Linked DNA regions of Homo sapiens. The protein of the gene in region 2 interacts with the protein of the main gene of each other region in a pairwise test. Each region holds a gene or a part of one and is shown on either strand. Other genes may lie near its edges.

Region 1 (3,727 bases), on a different chromosome or scaffold from region 2:
CTTTTTTATTGTAACCCAACTTAACAAGTAAATTTTCCATTGTAACCCTGGACACATACACCGCACACACATACACACACACACACACACACACACACACACACAGCACATACCTGTGAATGAAAATTTTTCATGAAATGATTATTATTATACTTATTTTTCGTCAGCTGCTCTGCAATAAAGTCTGTTTTGTTTTGTTGTTTGTGCAAAAGCTGTTTTGTTCCAATTCATTGATTTCACATGCCATTGGTAAATAGAAACCCACAGTTTAAAAAAACGAACCAAACAAAACCTGGTTTAGGGAACTGTTGTTTCATGGAGCAAAAGTTTCTAAAAGGTGTATTTGGTTTAACTCGCTGAGTGTTTTTATAAAAAGCTTTTCTCTATGACTGACCTCAGCTTAAAGATCTATACCACAACTTACTAATAATGAGTTCCATGTAAAACTAAGCAGAATTCACAACTCTTTTGGGGTTCAGGTTATTCTATCATGAGACTTCTCCTTAAAGCTTCTAACCCTCTTCAGCCATTGCTTTAAGGCAGCCTGACTAGATTAAGTAAACAGAACTTGAACACAATGACTTAACTATACTTTATAAATTCATGATTGTTAAGCCACAAAATCAACCTTTCCAAATAAAACTGAGTGTAAGTCAAACTGCCAAGCGAAAAGAGCAGCTATGGAGCTCTCAACTCTCCCTTTTGTCATAGTTTATCTCTGTACAATGCCAGATAAAGCCCAGATGAGGAATAAAGTGATGTGACTATTGCTTTATACTTATTAAATCTCATCCGTTATTGTGGGACCATGCTGCCATCCTCCTCACCTGAGGTGCCCGATAATGATCACCCTAGCGGGGGGTTATAAGGCACCTTTGTTCGAAAGAAGTTTATAGAATTGGACTCAGAAAGGTACAGCTTGCCCTCCAGGGAAGCAAAGGAGAAAATTATATTTAATGCATATTAAACAAACAATTGTTGGAGATTATAAGCTACATCGATTCCAAGATCCCAAAATACTTGAGTCAGCTTACTCCAAAATGTTACCAGCCAGCCACTTTAAACATTAATGAGGTAGCTGGTTTCTAAAATCTGGAAGGAGGAGGAGGTTTTGTTTAAGCCAACTATTTCACAGAAGAGGAAATACAGTTCGACCTCAGGAAATTTAAATGAGACTGCTGAATAACTGGGAAAGAACATCTCCTGTGGATGACAGGGCAAAGAAGAATTAAGCTGATTTTAGGCCAAATAACAAATGTGACAGCTGTGCTTTTTTGTGTATGTATTGGTGTGTGATAGTGTATAATTTCTAGAAAAGCAGTTCTCATGCATTTGGGTCTTGAAAATTTCCACTTTTAAAAATTATTGAGAACTCCAAAGAACTCTTGCTTCTGTAGGCTGTATCTATCAATTTTTACCATTTTAAAAATTGAAACTAAGAAATTAAAAAAATATTGATTGAATCATTAAAAAAACTGTATTAACATAAAATATTTTTATTTAAAACATTGTTTTCAAAAAAGTTATTGAGAAGAGTATTATTGTTTTATATTACTGCAAATCTATTTAATACTTGGCTTAATAAATGGCACCTAGATTGTCATCTTTTCTCCATATACTCTATTGTGTTATGTTGTTTTGGTTGAAGTATGTGAAGCGAAGTTAGTTCACACAAATAAGTAATTGGAAAAGAGAGAACCTCATAGTCCCCTTAAAAGGATCTCAGGGGACTCCCAGGGATCCTTGGGGCACACTTTGAGAGCCACTGTCCTGAAAAGTAGTTTGGAAGACTATGTTAAGAATGGCTGTCCAGGAGTGGTGAGATTATTCACGATTCTTTTTTTCTTTTCTTTTCATTAGTATTTATTTTCTACAAGAAGATGGATTGCTTGTGCAAACTAAAAATGAGAAAGAAAGAACATACTCATGTTGAGGGCAGATTATGGAGGCCCTGGAAAAACCCAGGCAGAGGAGTTTACACTTGGGAGACCAAGGAGCCACTGTCATTTCTTAAATGGGAAAATGATAAGAGCTGTGTTTGGGAGTAAGTGAATTCGAATTGAAAGAGAGAAAGAGAGATGCTACTTCAGAGAAGTGGTGTGGTGAGTCAGACCTCAGGTGTTGGCAGAAATGGAGAGAAAGGACAAACTCCAAAGACTTTGAGGGCAGAATGACCTGAGACCTGGATATAGGAAATACAGGAGAGGGCAGAGTCAAAGACAACAGTTTTAAAATTAAAACATTTGAAGAATGTTTTTTCCCTTCTATCCAACTTTGGGGCCTGGTTCTGTTGCTCAGGCTGGAGTGCAGTGGCGCAGCCTTGACCTCCTGGGCTCGAGCCATTCACCCACTTGAGTAGCTGGGACTGTAGGTGTAGATTGCCTCTTTCTATCCAACTTCAACTTTTTCTGAATGTTACTCCGATTAAGCTAATTGAAGTCTTGTCGTGTTTTCCAGAGTTGGCCACCCTGTTCAAGGGCTTAGGAGAAAGTCAACACACTTCGCAACTTGAATTGGTCCCAGCTGCTCCCAGAAGAACGGGCGGGTTGGTCCCTATGCCACCCCTGGAGAGCTACTCGCCGCCCACTTTGCCGTGAAGGGCTGTGCGGTTCCCGTGCGCGCCGGAGCCTGCTGTGGCCTCTTATGCACTCCACCACCCCCATCAGCTCCCTCTTCTCCTTCACCAGCCCCGCAGTGAAGAGACTGCTAGGCTGGAAGCAAGGAGATGAAGAGGAAAAGTGGGCAGAGAAGGCAGTGGACTCTCTAGTGAAGAAGTTAAAGAAGAAGAAGGGAGCCATGGACGAGCTGGAGAGGGCTCTCAGCTGCCCGGGGCAGCCCAGCAAATGCGTCACGATTCCCCGCTCCCTGGACGGGCGGCTGCAGGTGTCCCACCGCAAGGGCCTGCCCCATGTGATTTACTGTCGCGTGTGGCGCTGGCCGGATCTGCAGTCCCACCACGAGCTGAAGCCGCTGGAGTGCTGTGAGTTCCCATTTGGCTCCAAGCAGAAAGAAGTGTGCATTAACCCTTACCACTACCGCCGGGTGGAGACTCCAGGTGGGTCGTCTTTACGACGTCAAGGTTTATTTTCAGAGTGAAGGTCGTGTGCCCCATTGATGGAGAATGATGGGGCACCAGCAGACAGGGACCTCTCCCAAAAGAGAGAGAGAGAAGAGAGGAGAGGGAGGTTCAGTTTTGAGGGACTCGTCCAAAATTTTGTTTCCCGGAATGAGGCAGCTGTCCAATCAAAGAAAGTTCCCATGAAAACGATATTCCTGCCTGGAATGCCACAGGAACACTCAATCCAAAGAGAATCGCAGTAAAACCCTGTTATAGCCAGTGTGAAGGAATGAAGATAAACTAGTCAGGAAAATCTAGAAAGAAGATATTTTCATTTGATTTCATTATGCTGGTAAGCTTTGTGTGATTTTGAAAATGAGGCAGATGGCTAATCGGAGAAAACTGCCATAAAAGTTTTATTTTGAGGTATCTGGGACAAGTCAACATAATCTTTTACCAGTTCTTGGGGTCCTGAAAGGTTTTAAAATGGCCTTGATAATGATGAGCTGTAAAAATTAAACATCCTCCTCCCCCCGCCCCAAACAACTGAACTGAACTGTACTAAACTGAACTAAGGCAGGGTTTTTGGCTGCTACTTTGTTCAAGTTCAGGTAAGTAGAAGATATCTCATGTCTAGGTCTGAAAACAGCCAATGAAAGAGTTGCTGGA
Region 2 (3,500 bases):
AGGTCACTCCTAGGGATATCAGGACATGGCCAGAACCAGCCCTCACCCGGCCACTATCCCAGACGGCAGAGCCCCCTCTGTGGCCTCGATAGTCTCACCTCTGTCTTCAAAATCCTGGAGCAGTATGAACCCCATTCAGTCCTGGGACAGAGGGGCTGCCCTGGTGACCCCACTAAGCTCCTTCCATCCTAGGACATACCTGACCCCAGGCTAGCCGCATTGATCCCAAAGGGGTTCGAGACTGTCGGGTGCACCTGGCTGGTCCCCGATCCTCCGGTGCCCTCCCCACCGGACCCGGGGGCCTGGGAGGTGGGGGGCGAGGGGCTCCAGGGGTTAGGGAGGGGCTCTCGATTCTCAGTCCGCAGAGGCTGGGAGGATGAGCTGTCGGAGTTCCCGGCCAGGGAAGAGAAGGGATTGTTGCCAAACTGGGAGGAGGGAAAGGTTTTGGGTTAAGGACTGAAACAAATCAGGGACAAGGGCTAGGCCCATTCTCTCCTCTCACTTAATAGCCTCCCCTTCCCCAGAAAAGGGAGAGAGATCTAAGACCTTAGAGGTCCTCAGTTCAGTTCTTTGCCCCACAATGGATAGCTCCTTCCTTGCTCCATAGGGTGGGAGCTAGCTGATGCTAGTGACTGGATAACTGAACCTCTCAGATAATTGGAAACTTCCCATCCCCCCGGTGGCTTTCAATATTTGGTCTCTAATCATCTCCTATGTAACCCACCGCACTTTACACACAGTTTTCCCATTGTGTAGCCAAATATTTGTGTTCCTGTACCTCAAGGGGCAGAGGCAATGTCAGATTTGCCTGTGCACCCCCAGCCCCGACACTAGTAGGTGCTCAATAACTAACTACTGGCTTAATGGGAGTGGGCTGTCAAACCTGGCTCTCTACTTGAACCCCGATCTTCCCTTTCCCCAGCCTCCTTGGACTAATCCTAACTCCCCAGAACCTTTCCCTCACTCCCCAGGTCCCCTACCTGGCATTCTCTGTCCATCCAGGCACACCACAGTGGCGGCCCCTAGCAGAACACACCTCCAGCAGAATATGCCCTCTCTAGGTTTTCCCCTCCTGCTCCAAACCCTACCTCTACACACTGGCTACTTCAGATGGACAGGCCTCAGTTTACTTCTGGTCCCCCTTGCCCTACCATGCTCCTCACTGTGCTCCCCAGGATATCTCAGGTCCATACCCCATGGGATGGTGTGCTTCCCAAAGGCAACACCGGAACCTCCTCCCCTCCAGCACCTAGCACAGAGCTCTGGCTGAGGGAGTCCCAGACTCAGTTTTCCCTACTCAGCCTTTCTTGTGGTCTAAGAGCTCAGCAGCTCTCTTTCCTGAGTTCCCAGGTGGTCCTACCTCAGCCCCTCCCCACCGTAGGGTTTCATATTGAGCTGCTTTTCCTGTTCATTGAAAGTGGGTCATGGGGACCGGGGCTAACCAAGGATTCTCCTACTCTGAGCTGTTTCCTTCACCTCACCAGATCCTGTTCAGATAACAGAGCTCACAGGCCAGGGTTCATGCACCATGGTTTCAGCCTCTGTGCCTGTTTCAGATTTCTTGTTCTGATACTTGCCTAGCACCTCACCCCACCTTGTTCTGGGCTCGCTTTATTCTTCCTGGTACACTCTAAGGACGAAATCTCTTTTCCTGAACTACCCACAGTGATAACAACCATCATTTATTGAGCACCTACTATGTGCCTGACACATTTATTCTAATGCTTATAATACTCCTCTAATACAACAGTTCTCAAAGTGTGGTCCTGGGACCCCTGCAAGCATTAAAACTGTTTTCATAATTCTAAGACATGAATTTGTCTTTTTCACTCTTATTCTCTCATGAGGATACAGTGGAGTTTTCCAAAGTCTACATGACATGTGACATTGCAAACTGAATGCAGATCTGAGAACCAGCTGTCTTGTAGTAAGCTAGACATCAAAGAGAACTACAAAAATGTAAAACAAGTCCATACTTTCCTCTACAGTTTTGTTTGTTTTGGAAAATAAAGTTATTTTTCAAAATAATGTTATTTATGTTAACTTGTAATAATTTTTTTTTTTTGAGATGGAGTCTCGTTTTGCTGCCCAGGTTGGAGTGCAAAGGCACAATCTCGGCTCACTGCAACCTCCACCTCCAGGGTTCAAGCAATTCTCTTGCCTCAGCCTCCTGAGAAGCTGGGATGACAGGCACCCACCACCACACCTGGCTAAGTTTTGTATTTTTAGTAGAGATGGGGTTTCGCCATGTTGGCCAGGCTGGTCTCAAACTCCTGACCTCAGGTGATCCACCTGCCTCAGCCTCCCAAAATGCTGAGATTATAGGCATGCGCCACTACGCTCCACCAACTTGTAATAAATTGTCATTTTTAAATGAAACAAATATTTTAAAAGTTTGTCAGTTTTAGGCCGGGCACGGTGGCTCACGCCTATAATCCCAGCACTTTGGGAGGCCGAGGTGGGTGGATCACCTGAGGTCAGGAGTTCGAGACCAGCCTGGCCAACATGGTGAAACCCCGTCTCTACTAATAATACAAAAAAAAAAAAAAAATAGCTGGGCATGGTGGCGGGCGCCTGTGGTCCCAGCTACTCGGGAGGCTGAGGCAGGAGAATCACTTGAACCCGGGAGGCGGAGGTTGCAGTGAGCTGAGATCACGCCATTGCACTCCAGCCTGGGCAACGAGTGAAACTTCGTCTCAAAAAAACAAAACAAACCAAAAACACAAAACATTTTTAAAGGTTGTATTAAAAAAAAAAAAAGCAGCCAAGTGCAGTGGCTCACACCTGTAATCCCAGCACTTTGGGAGGCCGAGGCAGGCAGATGACAAGGTCAGGAGTTCGAGACCAGCCTGGCCAATATGGTGAAACCCTGTGTCTGCTAAAAAATACAAAACTTAGCCAGGCGTGGTGGTGCAAGCCTGCAGTCCCGGCTACTCAGAAAGCTGAGGCAGGAGACTCGCTTGAACCCAGGAGGTGGAGGTTGCAGTGAGCTGAGATCGCGCCATTGCACTCCAGCCTGGGCGAAACAGTGAGACTCTGTCTCAAAACAAAAGCAAGTTAAAATAATAAGACCAGCATGGTACCACCTCATATTTAAAAATATGATAATATATAGACGTTTATAGACATATACATAGGTAATAAAAGAATCAGAATGATAAACCCCAACTTCAACTTCAGCATACTAGTTACCTCTGGAAAGAAAAAGAATAGGAGAGGGGAGGGGTTTGTAAAGGCTACAACTCTACCTATGTCTTATTTGCAAATATTAAATATGTCTAGGAAAATAAACAAGATACTAACAACATTAGTTACCACTGAGGTAGAAAAGAGCTGGCTGGGAGATGGAAACAGAGGGATCCCTTCTGTAAACCTTTTTTTAGCCTGTATACTTTTCCATACTTTTTTGGAATACCCTTTTGTTTACTTTGTGTAACTTGTGAATTTTTTTTTTTTTTTTTTTGAGATGGAGTCTCACTCTGTCGCCCAGGCTAGAGTGC

Evidence for each region. Proteins that work in one complex are often made in the same cells at the same time.
Region 1: the proteins of UBQLN4 (region 2) and SMAD9 interact in a two-hybrid assay, tested with the Homo sapiens proteins (one large-scale study listed by BioGRID and IntAct).

Annotation. Positions count from the first base shown.
Region 1 is NC_000013.11:36,878,606-36,882,332, reverse strand, and holds part of SMAD9 (mothers against decapentaplegic homolog 9), read left to right. Parts: intron 1-1,555; exon of another isoform or gene 1,556-2,044; intron 2,045-2,457; 5' UTR 2,458-2,643; coding exon 2,644-3,055; intron 3,056-3,727. UniProt on the Homo sapiens protein: Transcriptional modulator activated by BMP (bone morphogenetic proteins) type 1 receptor kinase. SMAD9 is a receptor-regulated SMAD (R-SMAD).
Region 2 is NC_000001.11:156,043,799-156,047,298, forward strand, and holds part of UBQLN4 (ubiquilin-4), read right to left. Parts: intron 426-3,500; coding exon 200-425; intron 1-199. UniProt on the Homo sapiens protein: Regulator of protein degradation that mediates the proteasomal targeting of misfolded, mislocalized or accumulated proteins.